Homo sapiens: one gene and its partners. The protein of the gene in region 4 interacts with the protein of the main gene of each other region in a pairwise test. Each region holds a gene or a part of one and is shown on either strand. Other genes may lie near its edges. The genes, in order: TLE2, MEIS1, GTF2A1L and EMX2.

Region 1 (6,120 bases), on a different chromosome or scaffold from region 4:
GGGAGGTGGAGGTTGCAGTGAGCCGAGATCGTGCCAATGCATTCCAGCCTGGGTGACAGAGCGAGACTCTGTCTCAAGAAAAAATATATATATATTACAAATCACAGTCTCTCCTTTGGAGCATCGAAGAACCAAAGACATCTGGGGCTGGATTGTTCTCTGGGGCGGGGCTGTTCCAGGCACTACAAGGAGCCGAGCAGCATCCCTGGCCTCCACCCACTCCATGCCAGGGGCACCCCCAGTTGTGACAACCACAGACGTCTCCTGGTGGTAAAACTACCCCCAAGAAAAAAAAAACACTGTGATAAATCGGCACCATGGACCCTTCTCCTAGGTTAAGGAACAGAAAGTACCAGACTCCAGGGGCCCCCTACACTCCCTGCCATCAGAACACCCTCCCTCCTCCACCTTCATGACAATAATTTCTTTGTTTTTCTGTATAATTCTGCCTCCTACGATCGCCTTCCTAAACCTGCGTGGATTTGTCCGTTTTCAACTACGTTGTGGGCTCATTCTCTGAGTTCTCTTTGGCATCTGGCCTCTCAGCATAACATTTTAAGCTTCTTCCATGATGTGGTGGGTGGCGGCAGCATATTCAGCTTTCAGAGCTGTGGGACTCTGCTGCGAGAAAATGTTATATCTGAGCCGGGCGCGGCGGCTCATGCCTGTAATCACAGCACTTTGGGAGGCCAAGGCAGGTGGATCACTTGAGGTCAGGAGTTCAAGACCAGCCTGGCCAACATGGTGAAACCCTATCTCTACTAAAAATACAAAAAAAATTAGCCAGACGTGGCGGCGGGTGCCTATAATACCAGCTACTCGTGAGGCTGACACAGGAGAATCACTTGAACCCAAGAGGCACAGGTTGCAGTGAGCCAAGATTGCACCACTGCACTCCAGCCTGGGAGACAGAGTGAGACCCAGTCTCAAAAAAAAAAAAAAAAAAAAAAAAAAGGGGGGGGGGTGCTGAGCGTGGTGACTCACACCTGTAATCCCAGCACTTTGGGAGGCTGAGGCAGGTGGATCACGAGATCAGGAGTTCGAGACCAACCTGACCAAGATGGTGAAACCCCATCTCTACTAAAAATACAAAAATTAGTCAGGCATGGTGGCATGCACCTGTAATCCCAGCTACTCGGGAGGCTGGGGCAGGAGAAACACTTGAACCCGGGAGTTAGAGATTGCAGTGAGCCAAGATCGTGCCATGCACTCCCGCCTGGGTGACAGAGCGAGACTCAGTCTCAAAAAAAAAAGAAAGAAAGAAAATGTTGTATTTTTGCTGTTCCACACAGAAGCCACTGGCCATGTGTGTGGCCACCAGGCATTTGACATGTGGCTGGTGCAACTGATGAATAGAATGATTAATTTTATTAAATTTAAGTGAATACAAGTTTAAATATAAAATAAATTTAATAGGCTTATTTTTATTTTTACTTTTTTGAGACGTAGTCTCACTCTGTTGCCCAGGCTGGAGTGCAATGGCATGCTCTTGGCTCACTGCAACCTCCGCCTCCCAGGTTCAAACAATTCTCCTGCCTCAGCCTCCCAAGTAGGTGAGATTACAGGTGCGCACCACCACACCCAACTAATTTTCATACTTTTAGTAGAGACGGGGTTTCACCATGTTGACCAGGCTGGTCTTGAACTCCTGATCTCAAGTGATTTGCCCCCCTCAGCCTCCCAAAGTGCTGGTATTACAGGTGTGAGCCACTGCGCCCAGCCTAAATATAAATTTAAATATAAAATTAACTTAATAGATTTCAGGTCGGGCGCAGTGGCTCATGCCTGTAATCCCAGTACTTTAGGATGCTGGAGTGGGAGGATTACGCTAGTCCAGGAGTTTGAGACCAGCCTGGGCAACATGGTGAGACTCCCTCTCTGTTACATTATACATATATACTTATTTAAGCCGGAGTCTCACTCTGTCGCACAGGCTGGAATGCAGTGGCGTGATCTCGGTTCACGCTAACCTCCGCCTCCCAGGTTCAAGCAATTCTCCTGCCTCAGCCTCCCGAGTAGCTGGGATTACAGGCACCTGCCACCACACCCAGCTAATTTTTGTAAAAAAAAATTTTTTTAGGCCAGGTGCGGTGGCTCACGCGTGTAATCCCAGCATTTTGGGAGGCCGAGCCAGATGGATCACCTGAGGTCAGTAGTTCAAGACCAGCCTGGCCAACATGGTGAAACCACCCCCCCACCCCATCTACAAAAATACAAAAACTAGCCGGCATGATGGTGGGTGCCTGTAATCCCAACTACTCGGGAGGCTGAGGTGGAAGAATCGCTTGAACCCAGGAGGCAGAGATTGCAGTGAGCTGAGATCGTGCCATTGCACTCCAGCCCGGGCGACAGAGCAAGACTCTGTCTCAAAAAAAAAAAAAATTTTTTTAAGGAAAAAAATAATAGATTTAAATATTATTAATAGTTAACCTAAGTGTAAATGATCACACGGGGCTGGTGACTGCCGTGTAGGATAGCGGAACAGTAGTATATTCCACTGTATGCACTCTGAGGCTGCTTGTGTATACACGCTCCTGAAGACAGACATCTGGGCTGTCTCCACCAAGGAGGTATCAGGATGCGGATACAGAGCTCCCATGGGGGTGCACCTGTGTGTGGGTGTGTGTAGGATGGGTTGGAAGACTTTCTAGAAAGGGCCAGAGAGTGAAAACATTTTCCCTCTGCAGGCCAGAGGTCTCTGTTGCAACTACCAAACTCTGTCACTGTAATGGGAAAGCTGCTGGAAATGATATGTACATGAGTGGGCGTGGCTATGTCAATAAAACTTTATTTGCAAAAACAAGTGGAGGGGTGGAGCTGGCCCTCGAGCTGCAGTTTGCTAATTCCTGGAAATGTGTGCCTTACTCATTCCTTTCAACAGTCATTTTACCTAATCTTTTTTTTTTTTTTTTGAGACAGAATCTCGCTGTGTTGCCCAGGCTGGAGTGCAATGGTGCGAACTCGGCTCACTGCAACCTCCACCCCCCGGGTTCAAGCAATTCTCCTGCCTCAGCCTCCCGAGTAGCTGGGACTAGCCCAGCTAATTTTTGTATTTTTAGTAGAAATGAGGTTTCACCATACTGGCCAGGTGGGTCTCAAACTCCTGACCTCATGACCCGCACGCCTTGGCCTCCCAAAGTGCTGGGATTACAGGCGTGAGCCACTGGGCTCGGCCTACCTAAACTTCTTGCGGCTCTTGCCTTTCTCTAGACCACCTCGTCCCCACTTTCCGCTGCAGATGCTCTTTATGTTCTGTGTCTACACAGGACCTCTCCCCACCCCAAGCTTCCAGAAATCTCAGACTCAGTGGAATCTGAACAAACTGAGCATCTCCCCTCTGGGTTTGGTCCTCAAGGCATCAAGGATCCTCCCAGTGTATCCACTCTGAAGTAGAACTATCTTTCACGTCTCTCTGAAGAGAGAACGTACCACACAGAAACAGGGACAGTGCAGGCTGGGTACAGTGGCTCACACCTGTAAACCCAACACTCGGAGCCTGACACGGGCGGATTGCTTGAGTCCGGGGGTTCGAGACCAGCCCGGGCAACATAGGGAGACCCGTCTCTACTAAAAATACAAAAATTAGCCGGGCGTGGTGGTGCACGCCTGTAATCCCAGCTACTCAGGAGGCTGAGGCATGAGAATCGCTTGCACCCAGGAGGTGGAGGTTGCAGTCAGCCAAGATCATGCCACTGCACTCCAGCCTGGGTAACAGAGCAAGAATCCATCACACACACACACACACACAAAAGAAAAGAAAAAGAAAAAAGAAACAGGGACTGTGCAAAGGTACTGAGGATGAAAGGAACCTGGGGCACTCTCAGAAGAGCTAACTTTTTTTTTTTTTTTTTTTGAGATGGAGTCTAACTCTCTCACCCAGGCTGGAGTGCAGCGGCGCAATCTCTGCTCACTGCAACCCCCGCCTCCTGAGTTCAAGCAATTCTATTCTCCTGCCTCAGCCTCCCGAGTAGCTGGGATTACAGGCAAACACCACCATGCCCGGCTAATTTTTTTTTTTAAGTTTTAGCAGAGACAGGGTTTCACCATGTTGGACAGGCTGGTCTCGAACTCCTGACCTCTGGTGATCCACCTGCCTCAGCCTCCCAAAATGCTGGGATTACAGGCAGGAGCCACCGCACCTGGCCGAATTACAGTCCATTTTAACCATTTGTAAGTGCACAGCTCAGCAGCATAAAGCACACACACGGTTGTGCAGCCATCCCCAGCACCATCTCCAGAATTTTCCCATCTTCCCAAACTGAATTTCTGTCCCCATAAAACTCTCACTCCCCGTCCCCTCCCCAACCCCTGGCACCCCCCATTCTGCTTTCTGTCTCAGTGAACCTGACGACCCTGGGACCTCCTAGGAGTGGATCACCCAGTGTTTGTCCCTCAGTGACTTCTTCTAGCAAGACGGTAGGGTTAACTTTCATCAGGTGCTGAGTAAGCGTACCCATCATCTCCAGCACCCTGGGTGTATGAGCTCATCTCAACTTCACACCTACGCTACTGAAAAAACAGAGACAAGTGTCCTGCCTGAGGCCACACAGCCAGGATTCAGACCCAGGCAGCCAACTTGCAGGGCTTGAGGGGGTCAGCTCTATGCCTTGCTTCCCATCAAGGGGGAAAACAGCCCCCAGTCCTCACCCTCAGCCAACACCTCCCTCCATCCCTGCAGCCCCTGCCCCAGCGGGATGCCTGGCCTCAGGGCTGCGGGACTACTGCAGTGAAAATGGTCTCTATCCGTGCTGCAGGCTACGCGGCAGAATCAGTGCCTGGGGCGTCCTCGCCCAGACCTACCCCCTCCCGTCTTCTTCCGGCTCCCTTCCCCTCCTCCCCCCACCCCCAGGCCCACTCACCTCCTGGGTCAGGAAGGGGATAATCTGAGCGCAGATACCGCTCAGACGCTTCACAATCTCCGCCTGGCAGGAAGCAATGAGAGGAAGCTTGGAGCGGGGTAGAGATTTGCAACCCAGCTCTGGACTCCCAGGCGGACCAGGTGTTGGCAAAGCCGAAGGGTTGGGGAGGTGACGCCCGCAGGTGCACAGAGGGAACTCAGGCTAGCATGGCATGGGCCGAGGTGGGATTCAGAGCCCCACCAGGCTGCGTGCTCAGCTGAGCGAGGCCCAGGGTGGCCTGGAGCTGGGAAGACCAGGGCTGAGGTCCTACGAGTCACAGATACACCACCCGCCAGACGCACACCCGCCAGGGATTTGCAGGAGGCAGACGCTCAGACACCCAACTCAGACGCAGACACTCAGAGGTGCTGGGCTCAGCTGAAACAAAGGAAAGGGGCCTCCGCCTGGAGTCCCAGATTCCAGCCCCGGCTTGGCCCACGTCTGTCCCAGGCAAGGCCCCTTTCTTGGTCTCCTCCGCTTCCCAGGACTGATCTACCAGCTGGGGATGCCTCCAGGTGGAGATCTCAGCACGCCACACTCAAGGGAAGGATTTCATCTGGAGAGGGTCTGGGCCCAGGTGCCCCAAAGAGGCTGAGCAGACGAGAAGGCGTGTGGGTGGGGAAGGGGGCGGGCATACAATGGCCACGGACTTTGCCTCTGCCTGAGTTACAGGTGTGCTGTGTGTCTGGCGAAGTCTGTGTCTCCTATTCCCACCAGGAGGGTGGAACTGGGATCCCAGGGTGTCCCGCACCCCATAAAGGGGGGTCTATTGCGTGGACCCATGGGACCACGCCATGCTTCAGCAGACAAGCCCCCTCCTGCCCACATCAGAACCAACAGAACCCCCACACATGCAGGAAAGCATGCCAGGGTGGGCAACCCCAGGCACCCCACACTCCCAGCCCACCCCCTTCTCCTTCCCAGCCACCGGGAAGTCCCAATACAAGGTTCTGCTCATTGATTCTAATATTCTGATAGAATCTAGGAGCCCATGAAGCTCAGAAGTTTGGGACCCCTCTCATCCCTTTAGAAACCACTGGCCAGTCTCAGGATCTCAGGATTAAGCATGGACCACTAAAGTCAATTTTAGAATCTTTGGGTCTATTGGCCGGGCAAGGTGGCTCACTCCTGTAATCCCAGCACTTTGGGAGGCCGAGGCAGGTGGATCACCTGAGGTCAGGAGTTCAAGACCAGCCTGGCCAACATGGAGAAACCCCGTCTC
Region 2 (6,120 bases), on a different chromosome or scaffold from region 4:
TGAGTAACATTTGCCTCCTTGACTTCTAGTCTGGAAACAAAGTTCATAAGAGTAAATAAGAAAATAGAATATTAGCTGCTTCAACTATAGATTTTCTTTAACTTTGGGGGTGGGGAATTGCCCAATTCTAAATTCAGCTCTGATGTTCAGGAAAAGCTACCCTCCTTTGAGTTTCACTTATAAGGGGTCAGTTAGTTTTGTATAATTTAGCAGAGTTTGTCTTGGAAAGCAAAAGAAATGCAGTGTCTTGTAGGACTGCCTAACCTCACGCTGGCAGGGAAATAAAATGAGAAGCCTGTCTAAATTCACGTGCTTTGCGTAGCTGTTCCCATCGTAACTTTTTTTTTTTTTTTTAATTCCCCCTGATGTGAAGGGGCTGTGAAACTAGGCGGGTTTGCTGCAGTGTCCTGGCACGTTTTATTATTGTGATTTTGAATTTCTTCCTCCAGAGACATGCCCGTTTCACCTTCTACCCTCGGGAGAATGCTTCTCTTTCTCTCTTTCTTTCTTCTTTCCTTCTTGCCAAAGGAGCCTGAATTTCTAAACTAGTTGATAGGGACACAAGTTAGGGCAAGATCATTCATCCCAGACGAGTCTCGCTGAGAATTCTGTATTTTTTACTTAAAGCTTTAATTTTAAAATAAGAAAAACTCAGCTTTATAGATGCAAGGCCACCGAATTCCGGGTGGAAGGACCCAGCTGTATTGACCTTATATAAGCTCGGTGCCTTGCCGTTCTCCCATTTGCCCGCCTGGCCTCCTGAACCTTCTTTCTCTCCTGTTTGTCATGCAGTACGACGATCTACCCCATTACGGGGGCATGGATGGAGTAGGCATCCCCTCCACGATGTATGGGGACCCGCATGCAGCCAGGTCCATGCAGCCGGTCCACCACCTGAACCACGGGCCTCCTCTGCACTCGCATCAGTACCCGCACACAGCTCATACCAACGCCATGGCCCCCAGCATGGGCTCCTCTGTCAATGACGCTTTAAAGAGAGATAAAGATGCCATTTATGGGTAGGTACAATGGGCAGCAGGTTAAGTAGTTGAGACTCAACGCTTCCCTCTTTCTCTGTGCCCTTGGTAAGAGGAAAGTCAGAGTTCTCTGGATTGGAGGTACATCTTTGGTGACTTTTCATTCACATTTCATGGATAATTTGGGGAGGTGGCCTGCCATCCCTGAAGCCCTACATCCCCATACACACTCTGTGCACATCCAGTGCCCTGCTCCACCATGGCAGTGCCCGCAAGGGGGTCCCAGATGAGAAGAAGCTGGCTAAAGGGCCCTTGTCCCCTCTCAGACTCCTTCAGCGGGCTGGAGTCCTCCCTCGCTCGATTTCGCCCGAGAGCGTTAGGGGTTTCTAAATGCAGGCGCCTTTGTGTTGTAACGAAACTTTTAGTTTAAGGGAAAATCTCTTTTAAGCCACTGATTGTTCTGACTTGCTGAGTTTACTCAGCAGCCTTATGCTGGCTCTGCCACTGCACAATAAAACCAAAGCAGGACAGTTGCAGGTCAAGCAAGGGGGAACATGTTTTGCATTTAGGGAGTTTGACCACTGAAGTCAAGGAGAGGAGCTTGCTCTGAATTGTTACACACATTAAGAAACTTCTAGATGTTTTAGCACTTTGTGCTCAAAGGCGAAACCTGCAGGATTTAGAAATAAGTAAATTCGGGGTGCTCTTCCTCGGAGGTTGTTTTCTGGCTGCGGTTTATACTGCTTTCTCCTCCGCCATTCGATTAGACCCTGGGCTAGTAGAATCCTTTGAAACTCACTTGTGCCTACTGTGTGCCGATGAATTTGGGAACCTCTTTTTACTTTGCAGAAACTTTTATTTCTATTTATTTATTTTTAAAAAATCAGGACACACTGACCCTCCCTCGCTGGAAAAAAAAATATATATAATCTTTTTATTTTATTTTCTGATCCCTTGTGCGATGGGCTTGTTTAATTCCCACCGTTCTGTCCGCAGAGTTAACTACAAGTGGTTTAGGCTCTGGGACAGAACATTTGGGGAAGCTTTGTAAAGGACCCCAAACTGTTAAATTCCCAGCTGAGCTGTGAGAGCTAATAAAAGACTTGAGATACCTCCTTGGGCATTAGAAGAAGCTTTTCTTTCTTTCTTCTTCTTCTTCTTTTTTTTTTTTTTTTCTTTTTTATGGGCTGAGACAAGCGACATCTAGGCCCCTCGCAATACTAGCTGCTTTGCCACTTCGCAGAGACAAAATGAAAGGCTCTACTGCAGGAACATTTGAAGGAACTTTCTTTGGGGGGCGGTGGGGGCTATCAGCGAAGGGAGGGGAATGTGCGTGGAGCTGAGGAGGAGCCTCCCGGCTCTCCGAGGGCCTTGGGGTTGGGATCCCTAGGTGCAGCCCGTTGACAGTCGGCCCCACGGCCATGGACGTCCTTTCCCCAAGTTAGCTGAGCGCCTGCCACCGAGATCCCCCGAGCCTGGGCTTCGCGCGGCCGCCTAGGAGGAACCCGCAGGAACCAGCCCTCCCCAACTCTCCGCCCGGCGCCTTTCTCCTCCACCGGATCCTGGATGTGCAGTGGAGGGGACGAGGGCTTGTCGGGTGGGAAACTTAATTCAAAATGGCTGCTGGAAACGCTTGGGTTTTATTCGTAGCAAATGTTGCCAATTTCTCCGGCCAGATACGCTAAACCGATCCTCAGATACCGTCCATGGCTCAGGGCCTCCGACTTCAGGGCTCCAGGAGGAAGGGGAGGTGAGCGGTCACCTGGGTCTGGGGGAGGGGGAGGAAAAGGAAAAAAGTAGATGACACAATCGGAGAGGGGGTCTGTTCCTCTTGCTCCTCCAGCTGTTTTTCTTGGGCACCTTTTTCCATTGACTGGGGACTAACCATTATGTTGTTTGTGACTGTTGTATTTTCTTGCAGACACCCCCTCTTCCCTCTCTTAGCACTGATTTTTGAGAAATGTGAATTAGCTACTTGTACCCCCCGCGAGCCGGGGGTGGCGGGCGGGGACGTCTGCTCGTCAGAGTCATTCAATGAAGATATAGCCGTGTTCGCCAAACAGGTCAGCAAAATAGATGTTAAAAAGTAAAAGAAACAAAAAGAGAGCCCCCCCTTCGCCAACACACACGCGCGCGCGCGCGCGCGAACACACACACACACACACACACACGGCACACTTTCAAAAGTAGCCAGCACGTAGTCGGCCTTAAGCCATGCATGTTACCTCCAACCTCAGATTTTCTCTCTGTCTGAGTGTCTGTTTGCAGATAACTTAAAATCACCCATCTGCATCCCCACTCACCCTCCAGAAAGCAAACGTGGAGAGCTCACTCTGCAGAATAAAATCAAGAACACCACGGTTGTAGCTGCTGTGGACTCGGCGGTCTGAGCAGCCTCCCCGAGAGCCGTAGTTGCTAGTAGAAGTAAGATTGAGCTCTGGGCTTGTTTTCAGCTTATTTAATTCACACTGAAATGTTTCTGCGCGGGACGAACTCGGTGTCACCGGGTCCCTCCCGGAGGGTTACTTCCTGCCCCCGACAGTGTAATGAGGCAAGAAACTAGGAAGGCGACCAGATTTCAAATTTTTCTTTCTTTTTTCTCTCCCCTCCCTCTCCCCTCTCCTTCTCACTTGTATTTAGATTCGCGCAGAAAAACCTCTATTTTCTTCTAATCCAGAACTGGATAACTTGGTAAGAGCGGACCCCTATTTCCCTCCCCCGCCCCCGACCCCCTACCTCCCACCTCCAACGCCCTCAGCTTTGCTTTGAGAGCCCTGAGATTTCTAGACCGGTCTTCCCGTGCCTGCAGGTTGGCTGCAAATGTTTCTGTACACGGACAACTGGTCCGGGACAAGATCCCGGGGAAATAAATTCATCTCGAGAGGGGCCGGGCGAGCCAGCGCGGGGAAACGCGAGCTTTTGTTTTTTATGACAGCCGGGCTGCGCAGCTCTAATCAGCGCGGGGATTTATCTCCCGGCCTGTCAGCATGTGTGCTTAAACTTTGCGGACTTCCTAGCCCTCTAAGTCCCATCACGAGGGCAGCCACCGGACAAGAGCCCCCAAACAACCAGTTTGCCTGAAAGGTGTAAGGAAGGCAGCAGAAACTTTGCAATGGGAAAAGCCACAGTTTGAGGGCCATTTGGAATATTTTTCTGTCCACTCCTTCCAAGGACACATGTAGTCCAGTGTTGTGGCCCTTTTGGGGTGGGGTGGGGCCAGTGGGACTGAGAAAGGGGAGAGCCATGGGGGAGGAGAGTGTTTATGATCCTCACTTAGATGCTGTGTTGTTGTTTTAGCTAGTTTTTTTTTTCTTAAGAAATATAAACCTCTAGATGGTACCCAGTTGCTGCTATTAAGTTTTAGTGTTATTGCCATAAATCAAAATAACTCTATTTACTGGTGGGAGGGGGTGGGCTGGAGATGGTAGAGCTGTGGCAGCCAGTTTTCTGCAAGCCAGGAATGGGGTGCTTATTGTTTTTGTATCTTTGCAGATGATTCAAGCCATACAAGTATTAAGGTTTCATCTATTGGAATTAGAGAAGGTAATTTCTCTAGCCTCTTTTCCTTTTACTTACCCCTTACCCCCAAACACACAGGGGGGAGGGTTCCGAATGGCTGAAGTTCAGCCTTCTGATACATTTGCATAAATGTCTTTCTTTCTGGTAATTAGTGTCAAGGCCAATCTTAGCGTCCATTTCTCTTCGCAGTTTAATTACAATTTCAGCCACTAAAACTGGGATCACAAACGCCCTAGCCTTGTGTTCATTCTTAATAACTTGCTGGCTTTGTGTAAATAGTTGCAATTCTGTGCATCCCAGCTGATGTTTCGAATGCTGCTCTGAGGTTGTTTCACAAGTTCATACCTCTGTTGTCTCTTCTCATCCTCTTCCTTCTCTTCTTTGCTACCTCTGAGGGAGAAAAAAGTTTTATTCAGTTGTAGTGAGTTTCTGGAAGACAGTCTTGAGAGCAAGGGCAGATCAGACACAGGGGAGAGGCAGAAGGGGAGAAGGAGGAGGAGCGGGAAGGAGTCTGGAGGAGGTGGTGGGGAGGCACATTAAACGTTTTGCAGAGACAAAGCAGAGTTGATAGTTGTGTCAATTTCTTGAATCTGTGAATCCTGCACACACTCCACCTTCACACTCAAGAAAGGGTGTGGGATAACATGATTTTGCTAGCTGTTCTATAAATCTCAGCAATAAAAACTTAATGCATTGTAATTCAAACTAACATTAAATTGCAAGCACACTGGGGTTTCTTGTGAATTTTTGCATGTCAGTGATGCCTGGGACCTCTAGGAAACCTCTGCACTTACACTTAAATATTTTGAGGCATTCCTTCTCCTTTTTGTAAAAAAAAAAAAAAAAAAAAAAAATCAATTTGATATGTTTTTGTGTGGCTGTATGTTTTCCCATATCAGGAGTACTGGCAACTTGATTTCCTTCCATTTTTTTTTCAAAGAAAGTTTTCTAAAATATACCCCTTAGAGATAAAAACCTTCATTACAAATATAATAAGGACTTGGGTTGTCAGGCATTTATCCTATGCCACCACAGTACAGGTTCTTTGGAGAATATATATGTGCATATATACACACGTATACATTTTTTTCTTAGACACATTAGAAAGGGATTTATGATAAAGTCACTGGATGAAATTAAATAGTTTACCTTAAATGTCACCTACGCAGGTCACCTCTCTAATGACCACAGCCCCAGGAGCAGATGAATTTAACACGGGTGTTGAATATGTTGTAGCCTGTGAATCATCTTGTCACTGTCAATTTTCTGGGATATCTCTATTTTGCAAGAAAAGAAAGTTATTCCTAATTCTGGATGCGTCTGGGGGTCTCTGGAGGACAATTGCCCTGTGTTTCCCCTATTTGGAAGTTTGGATCTCACAAGGGGGGTGGATTGCACTTGTCAATGTCATTTATGCACTCCTGATTATATTCCCATTTTTTTATTTCTGTCATAATGTAGGTACACGAATTATGTGACAATTTCTGCCACCGGTATATTAGCTGTTTGAAAGGGAAAATGCCTATCGATTTGGTGATAGACGATAGAGAAGGAGGATCAAAATCAGACAGTGAAGATATAACAAGATCAGCAAATCTAACTGACCAGGTATGCGCTTTTCAAT
Region 3 (6,120 bases), on a different chromosome or scaffold from region 4:
GGTTCAAGTGATTCTTCTGCTTCAGCCTCCCGAGTAACGAGATTACAGACGCCCGCCACCATGCCCAACTAATTTTTTGTATTTTAGTTGAGATGGGGTTTCACCATGTTGGCCAGGGTGGTCTCAAACTCCTGACCTCAAGTGATCCACCCACCATGGCCTCCCAAAGTGCTGGGATTACAGGCGTGAGCCACCGTGCCCGGCCTGTACAAAATTTTTTTAAAAAAATTAGCCAAGCATGGTGGTGTGTGCCTGTAGTCCTGGCTACTTGAGAGGCTGAGGCAAAAGGATCACTTGAGCCTCGTAATTGGAGATTACAGTGAGTTATGATTGCACCACTGCTCTTCAGCCTGGGCAACAGAATGAAACCCTGTCTCTTAAAAATAAAAATGCAAAACATTTATAAATAAAATAAAGAGTTCTGTAGTCTTATACTCCAAGAATAAATGTTTTAACTCTTTGATGTTTATTCATCCAGACTTCTTTCATGAAAGCTATATTAGTTTTTAGGATAAAAAGTAGGGATACTCTTTTTACTGTTTCTGTAATTTCTGTTTTCTAATTTAGTAATATAGATGGACTGCTTTCAATTTCAGTTAGTACAAATTGACCTTCGTGGATGCAGCACAGTTTAATTAACAAACTTTTGTTGGTGAACATTTAAATTATTTCCAGCATTTTTCTAATATAGTATTCTATTGATTATGCTTGTGTATATGTCTGTGTGTTTCTGTGATAATCAGGATAAATTTCTAAAAGTAGAGTTCATGGGTCAAAGGTCATTTGTATTTTCATTTTTGGTATATATATTGCAAAAATTATCCTCCAAAAGGGTTGTACCAATATACATTCATACAAACAGTAGTTTGAGAGAACCAATTTTTATCACATTCTCAACAACACTGGATGTTATCAGTCTTTCAAATTTTTGCAGGTCTGAGAACCAATGGCCCTGCAAAGCTATGTCTTGGGCAAGTTTTTTGAGTTAATGTTTATACTGTTCATTAGGACTTACTAGCTTCATTGCTAATAACTGTAGAATAGGATTCCTCTTGATCCTTAATGGGATGATCGATATTGAAAACTATTTTATTCAAAGAACTCAGCCCTAATATTAAATGTTAAGTATTGTCAAACTATTGTCCAGAATCAGATTTTTTGACTCCCTGTGAGATCAGGGAAAAAAAGATACAAGTAAAGTCCTTTTCTAACTTTCTAATATAAATTTCTTATATCTAGGGCACTTCAAACTCCAGTGCAAACTTTACTTTTCCTGGTTATCCCATTCATGTACCAGCAGGTGTGACACTACAGACTGTATCTGGTGAGAGTATATTCTAAGAATCTTTTTGTTTTCAGCATTGGTACTATTTTTTGGACATTAAGCTTCATGATTTTTAAATAAACTATATACCAGAAGTTATAAGAACTTTTAATAAAATTGATTTTAAAAGTAATGATAAATGGTGGTTTTGATTGTTATAGAGACAATCTACCACAAAAGGCACTGTACTAGGCCTGTCCTATATTTGATTCCCAGTTCTCTTTCCCAACATTGTATAGGGGTTCTTTGTATATATTTTTTCTAATTCAAGTCAGTTATCTAAATTTTAACAAATACAAAATAAAATAACTTACCTGCATTCCTGCTAGCTCTAATTACGGATTAAAGATTAGGATGATCAACCTTTGCCCCCTTTCTTATTAGGGATTGCATGGTCTGATAGGACATCCAATAGTTTGGAGGTTAACCGGTTTCTGCTTTTCCGAGCACCATCTCTTGATTTTGAAGAGGATCATACCTCTTCTTTGGGTTGTTGTAAAGTTTAAGTAAAGCACCTAACTCAACACTCAAAAATAAGTCCTTTTTTTTGAGATGGAGTCTCGCTCTGTCGCCCACGCTGTAGTGCAGTGGCGCAATCTCTGCTCACTGCAAGCTCCGCCTCCTGGGTTCACGCCATTCTCCTGCCTCAGCCTCCCAAGTAGCTGGGACTACAGGCGCCGGCCACCACGCCCGGCTAATTTTTTGTATTTTTAGTAGAGACAGGGTTTCACCGTTTTAGCCAGGAGGGTCTTGATCTCCTGACCTCGTGATCCACCTGCCTTGGCCTCCCAAAGTGCTGGGATTACAGGCATGAGCCACCGCGCCTGGCCTTTTTTTTTTTTTCTTTTATAGTGTTATTTTAGAGGAAGAAAGGAGAAGAAATTTGATTACTTTTGAAATCATTAAACTCTCTTTTGGATAGCATTGTCTTGCTATATGGCATTTTAAATATATGAAGTATATTTTACATGATTATGTTTGTTAAAATCCAGTTTTTTGGCTGATAACATTAATTTATCAAACAATGGAAGAGGTTCATGGATTAAATATTGGTGTCCTTTATGTATCTCAAAGTGTGCCATAAAAGCAATTGTGGGAAAAGTCTGGAATTAAAGCAAAACATATGTAATTAAAAAAATAAGAATTTATATATTGATTGTAGAAATCCAAAAATGTCTGAAGAATAAAAGAAAAACCCCTAGAGATAACCACCATTAACATATTGGTGTATTTTTTTCCAGCCTTTGTGGATGAGATTTTTTTTTTTTTTTGTGGTGGTTGTCAAAGGAAATTTTAATTCTATTATACTTACAATTTTGCTTTCTCCTTTTTAAGGTCACCTTTATAAAGTCAATGTACCAATTATGGTGACAGAGACTTCTGGAAGAGCAGGTATTCTTCAGCATCCAATTCAGCAAGTATTTCAACAGCTTGGCCAGCCTTCAGTAATACAAACTAGTGTTCCACAATTGAATCCATGGTCTCTTCAAGCAACTACTGAAAAATCACAGAGAATTGAAACCGTGCTACAGCAACCCGCAATTCTACCTTCTGGGCCAGTAGATAGGAAACACTTAGAAAATGCCACCAGTGATATACTTGTATCTCCTGGAAATGAGCATAAAATCGTGCCTGAAGCTTTGTTGTGTCATCAGGAAAGTTCTCACTATATCAGTCTTCCAGGTGTTGTATTTTCTCCACAGGTCTCTCAAACAAATTCTAATGTGGAGTCAGTGCTCAGTGGTTCAGCTAGCATGGCTCAAAATCTGCATGATGAGTCCCTCTCCACAAGCCCTCATGGGGCTCTCCACCAGCACGTGACTGATATTCAGCTTCATATTCTTAAAAATAGGATGTATGGATGTGATTCTGTAAAGCAACCAAGAAATATAGAGGAACCCAGCAACATACCTGTATCAGAGAAGGTATAGTTCTGTGTCCAACTTCTTGGTATCAGGGGACAGATAGTGGCCAGTAACTGGATATCCTGAATATTTTCAAGCTGTAATGTTAATCAGAATTATATATATTTTGTTTTTTTCTTTAGAAGATTATTTCTTTTTTCTAGTGATTTAAAAAAATTTTTAATTGTGATAAAATACACGTAACATAAAGTTTACCAACTTAACCATTTTTAAGTGTACAGATCAGTAGTGTTATATACATTCACATGTGGTACAACCAAGAAGATTCTTTCTTTATTGTTGTTTTTAGTATAACTGTCAGTCCTTGAAATATTCATGCTTAGCATTTCTAAATTTTTCATTTCAATAAATGAATTATAATACTTCTTCAGAGAAAATGCGTTTGTTTTAAAAGGTAATCTGTTTACCAGTCTCTTATACTGGGAAACTTATTTTATGTCTGCAGATAAAAATTAAAAGACCCAGAAATCCAGACCAGTAGTTTGTGGAATGTTTTGAGATAATTAATTATCAAATGTAATATACAAAAGAAGCCCACAAAGTTTTTTTTTTCCTGCTCTACCTAATTTTTCTGAATTCCTATATGGAAACTTTTCCCTACATGAGGGATTATGTTGCTAGTAATTTTGTTTCTCCCTGCCTACTAAAATACTAGTTTTACTTAATTTCTTTTGGTATTGAAACCACTAAAAATTAGCTTCTAGTTAACTTTTGATATTGAAAATAGGTCTGAATTTTTAATTTTCAAGGAATTCATAGTAATGGCAGAAAGACTCATGGAGAATTTTGGATTATAAAAATTAAAAAAATTGCATTCTTTTTACAAATATAAAATACATCTTGTGGCTAATTCTATTTACACAATTTAGGACATGTGAAAAATACTTAAAGGTTTTTGCTCCAGCTAGTGGTTTAGCCATCATCTAGACCCACTGTACAAATCTGTAGCAATGGATAGTTAAGCACAACCTTAATATTTTATCTTCATGATATTTAAATTTTGCTAGTTAGGGAAAGACATAGGGCATAGTGAAAGGCCAGGAACAAAGAAAATGACAATCAGAAACTATTTGGCCTGTTTTAGAATGTTTCAGATATTTATTGAAACCTGTTCAAGATCTCTGAGCAAATCTGTTTTTAGTTTTTCTATAAGTGTTCATATTAAAATGTTTTATTGAGGTTTTTTTTACGTTTTTTAACATAACATATAACACTTAGTAAATAAATGTAGGTTAAACTAATAAGTATGAAACATTTGATTTTGAGGTAAAACTAACTACAAATGTAAAATGTTTGTTTTCATCACTACTACTTTTGGAGGCACTTTTTACCTGGATTCTGTGTGAATTTTGCAGATGTTTGGTGTGATGAGTCAAGGACTTATTCTACTGTTATGTATTGTATGTCATCATGTACTTTTTCTGATATGGGGAAATAGATTAGTTAAGGGATATTAATCAAGGATTGATTGGGGGTAGTGGTTGAGAACATAAGCTTTGGAACCACAGTAGGTTCAAATTCTAGGTTCACTACTTGCAAGCAAACTATATAACATTACTCCCTGAAATTCAATTTTAGTCTTTAAATTGGCCCCTAATACCAATCTTGTAATTTTGAGAATTATCAGAGATAATATATATGAAGTATTTAAAGCTTCTGGCACCATAGTAAGCTTTAGATTAGTGCTATTATGCTCTATGAGCTTGTAATATATTGGGTAACTTTTCATGTAACTTGTTTGTTAGTTTTAAAAAAGGTCTATGTCTAACACACAAAATCCAAACGTACAAGAGTATATGTAAAATGCTTATTTATTTATTGTAAGTTACCTTTAAGATAGTAAGCAGTTTGGTAGGTTTATGCTGAACTAATTTTCAAAGACTTTACAAGTAGTTTTTCTTTTTATAAGTAACTTAAAGCAAGTTATAATCAACTATACTTGTTTACTTTTCCTGTGTTGTAAACTACTGGAGAGCTTATGGATCTATAGGTTTAAGAGGTAAGGATCTATGTTGTTTGAACATTCTGTTTCACAAAATATATTCTTGATAGCTTTTAATTCTGCCCCTTGTAATTTCTGTTCTATTTTCTTTGTCTGAATTTGACTCTTCTAGGTACTTTAAAAATGGAATCATACAATATTTGCCCTTTTGTGACTGTCTTATTTCACTTAGTATAATGTTTTCAAGGTTAGTCGATATCGTAGCATGTGTCAGAATTTCATTCCTTTTTAAGGCTGAATCATGTGAGTTTGACAATTTTTAAATTTTGTAAATATTCCTGGAATCTGTTCCTTCATCTCCACTCCTAGTGCCATTGCCCTAATTGTTTCTCATGTGGGATAATTTTATCTAACTAATTTATCAGTGTGTAGTCTCTTCTACCTCTTACTCTGCTCCTGCCAATCCATCCATCCTAGAGGTCAAAGGCCTAAGCTTCAGGGATCAGAATTGTTTTGAATCCCTTCTCTATTCCTTAATAATTGTATGACTTAGAGAAGTTACTCATTTGTAAAATAAAGATAATAGTATCTACCATGTAATTGTGGTAGGATTAGTTAAGAAAATTAATGTAAAGTGCTCAGCAGCACACTGGCACCGTGGTAAATGCTCAGTGCATGTTAGCACTCTCTTCCTGGTGGCTTCCAGAGATCTGTCCCAAATGCAGCCTGGTTGTGTCTTTTCTCCACTTAACACATCACCGACTGCCCTTCACCTATAATAAATAAACTTCAGGCACCTTAATATACATATACAAAGCATATTACGCGTTCTTTCTCTGCCAAAGTTTCCTATTTACTCTTCCTTCCTCACATGAATATACTTTACTGGGAACACCAAACCGTGAGTGATTCTTGGTTTTCAACCTTGT
Region 4 (2,633 bases):
ATTCCGCTGCTCCCTCCGATTCCCTCTCCCTTTCTCGGTGAACGTGTATGCGGTTTGTTTTTGTTTTGTAGGGTTTTTTCCTTCTCCACCTCTCCCTGTCTCTTTTGCTCCATGTTGTCCGTTTCTGTGGGGTTAGGTTTATGTTTTTAATCATCTGAGGTCACGTCTATTTCCTCCGGACTCGCCTGCTTGGTGGCGATTCTCCACCGGTTAATATGGTGCGTCCCTTTTTTCTTTTGTTGCGAATCTGAGCCTTCTTCCTCCAGCTTCTGCCTTTTGAACTTTGTTCTTCGGTTCTGAAACCATACTTTTACCTGCGGGTGAGAGGCAGATGGGGTGCGTTAGTTCTTTCAGAGCACCCTTCTATCAAGTGCCTGATCCTTTCACCCAGCCCAGACTCCAGTTCCAGACTCAGCAAAGACCCAGCCCCCGAGATGCAAGTCCTAAGGTCCAGCCTCCCCAAGGCCTGCCCTCAGGGAGCAGGGCCGCTAGTGCGTGGTGGAACAGAAGCCCAGCTCCCTGCCCTTCTGAGGCTTCCTGAAGAGCCTTTCCCCAGGGCCCTGTGGCCCGGAGTGCACTGAGCCCCATCTCTCCTGGCCCTGCAGAGGGCATCTATATCCCGCTGAGAGCAAAGCCTTGCAAAGCATGGGAAGCCCCTACAAAAATAATAAGTGATTAAAAGAAAAAGAGACATGTCCCTAACTCCCTCCAGCAAGCGAGTGCAAGAGAGACCTCAGTCCGCCGCTGCTGCAGCTCCCCTCAGGGCCCAATGTGCTTTCTATTTTCTGCTGGTCTGGGCGGCGTTTCCTAAATATAGCGTCTCCTCTTCGTGGCGGGGGCCCTGGGTAGGCGATCAGGGTTTGCCTGAGCTGCATCCTCCGTGCGGGGGACTCTCACAGGTGAGCAGGAAGGGGATGGGGCTGGAGGAGGCCAGGAGGGACATGGAGTGTGTAGGCCTCCAGACCAACCCAGCTGTACCTTTATAGCTAGGAAAATGAGTTCAAAACTGAAAGCTTCTGAAAGACCGTGGGTTACACGGAAAGTAAGAGAAACTAAGAGAAGGGGAGGTGACAGCAAGCCCCCTCTTCCCTCCTTCTAAACAGCCCCGGAACAGGCTGCTGGTCACACAACCTCGGACCCCAGTCCCATCACTTCCCACCAGGGTGGGGCTGGAGGCCCGGCCTCACCAGAGCGGCTGTGAGAGGTCTCAGGAGCAATGAGGTGGGAGTCGGCTGCCATCCCACGGCCCCCTAGGAAAGCTGAGTCGTGGGTCCTCATTTAGCCACCAGACAGTAACACAGTCCAATCTTCACAGCAGTGGTGTACAGGTAAGGGAGATGGCAGTGACTGCACCTCTGATACCCTCCCCCCACAACTCCTATTCTATCTGGATAAGAGTACCCCACAGCCCAGTGCCAGTCCCTGGACCCCTGGGATCCATTCCATTCCCTCCTTTGAGGCCGCAGGCCGGTCCGTCTTGCTCTCCCGGAAAGCCACAGTCGCCCAAAGTGCTCCATGAAAAAAGCTGAGCGGGAACAAGGCTGAATTTAATTTGCTTTGAGTTTGCTAATTGAGGGGGAGGACGGTTCATTTCTCCCCGGCGCTGGCCCAAGGCGCGCGTCGGTGCGCTCGGGGCTTGACACGCACACAAAGACTCCAGGCAGCGTGGGCAGCGAGGCGGACAAAGACCACCGCCGCCTCGGCTGTCCAGGAGAAATCAGCCGGGCCGCGCCTTGTGCCGGGCTCCGCACAAACCCGCCAGGCCCTCCTCGGTTTTGGGGTGGGGAACATGTTTTAAAACAAAAGCCTCGACCTTTCTGAGCTGCCCAGGAAAAGTGTTACAACTTAGTCTGCCCAAAAAAACGTTACTGTTTGCTGGGAACTTTGACCCCGCCCTGCGGCTCCGTGTACAGTAGCGCCTAGTGTAGTCCTAAACCCCCTCCCCACCCTGGGATAAACCCAAGCCAGGCCCGCCCAGGGACCCTGCTGTGCAGAAGGCCTGTGCCCTGAGGCAGACCCTCTCTGCAGCCTCCCAACTTTACTTCTCTGATATAGGGTACACACAGGACGCTTGCCCTCTACCTTCCCATCGCCCATCTCCTTCAGGGAAGTCACTGGAGCCGACGGTGTGAGCCGTGGGCTCACAGTCGCTCAGAACTCATCTTTAACCCACATCCTGTCCTTACCAGCCTCCAGCTCCAAACACCCAGAAACCCCACTGTGCTCTCCCTCTTCCTGGACCCCAGCAGGGGTCTTCACACTCTCATCAAAAGTCTCACCAGAAATGCAGGGATGTCTTAGCCAGGACATGCCCAACTGGACAGAGAAACAACTCGGCGCGTTTCCCCAGAACCTGGGGCAGATTGGCACTTACAGCCCCTTTCTGGAGCCCAACAAAGCCAGCACCTTGAGACATACATCCCGAGCCCAGGCGTGGAACCAGCTACCAGGACCTGTGCGGAAGGCCCTCACAGAGCTCCGTGCTCATGGGTGTGCTTGGGAGCCAGCTTTGGGGAGGGGGCGCACGCCTAGATGGGTTCCTCGCGCCCGGGCCGCAGTCACCTGAGTTTCCGTGAGGCTGAGGCTGTGTGCCAGCTGCTTCCTTTCGGCGCCCACCACGTAGTGATTCTTCT

What was found.
Region 1: the proteins of EMX2 (region 4) and TLE2 interact in a two-hybrid assay, tested with the Homo sapiens proteins (one large-scale study listed by BioGRID and IntAct).
Region 2: the proteins of EMX2 (region 4) and MEIS1 interact in a two-hybrid assay, tested with the Homo sapiens proteins (one large-scale study listed by BioGRID and IntAct).
Region 3: the proteins of EMX2 (region 4) and GTF2A1L interact in a two-hybrid assay, tested with the Homo sapiens proteins (one large-scale study listed by BioGRID and IntAct).

Annotation. Positions count from the first base shown.
Region 1 is NC_000019.10:3,020,161-3,026,280, forward strand, and holds part of TLE2 (transducin-like enhancer protein 2), read right to left. Parts: intron 4,923-6,120; coding exon 4,860-4,922; intron 1-4,859.
Region 2 is NC_000002.12:66,436,945-66,443,064, forward strand, and holds part of MEIS1 (homeobox protein Meis1), read left to right. Parts: intron 1-792; coding exon 793-1,019; intron 1,020-2,142; exon of another isoform or gene 2,143-2,745; intron 2,746-2,898; coding exon 2,899-3,040; intron 3,041-3,280; exon of another isoform or gene 3,281-3,386; intron 3,387-3,617; coding exon 3,618-3,668; intron 3,669-4,469; coding exon 4,470-4,520; intron 4,521-5,957; coding exon 5,958-6,104; intron 6,105-6,120. UniProt on the Homo sapiens protein: Acts as a transcriptional regulator of PAX6. Acts as a transcriptional activator of PF4 in complex with PBX1 or PBX2. Required for hematopoiesis, megakaryocyte lineage development and vascular patterning.
Region 3 is NC_000002.12:48,643,794-48,649,913, forward strand, and holds part of GTF2A1L (TFIIA-alpha and beta-like factor), read left to right. Parts: intron 1-1,239; coding exon 1,240-1,324; intron 1,325-2,659; coding exon 2,660-3,249; intron 3,250-6,120. Other genes in the region: STON1-GTF2A1L protein, read left to right, coding at 1,240-1,324, 2,660-3,249. UniProt on the Homo sapiens protein: May function as a testis specific transcription factor. Binds DNA in conjunction with GTF2A2 and TBP (the TATA-binding protein) and together with GTF2A2, allows mRNA transcription.
Region 4 is NC_000010.11:117,545,746-117,548,378, reverse strand, and holds part of EMX2 (homeobox protein EMX2), read right to left. Parts: coding exon 2,563-2,633; intron 315-2,562; coding exon 147-314; 3' UTR 1-146. UniProt on the Homo sapiens protein: Transcription factor, which in cooperation with EMX1, acts to generate the boundary between the roof and archipallium in the developing brain. May function in combination with OTX1/2 to specify cell fates in the developing central nervous system.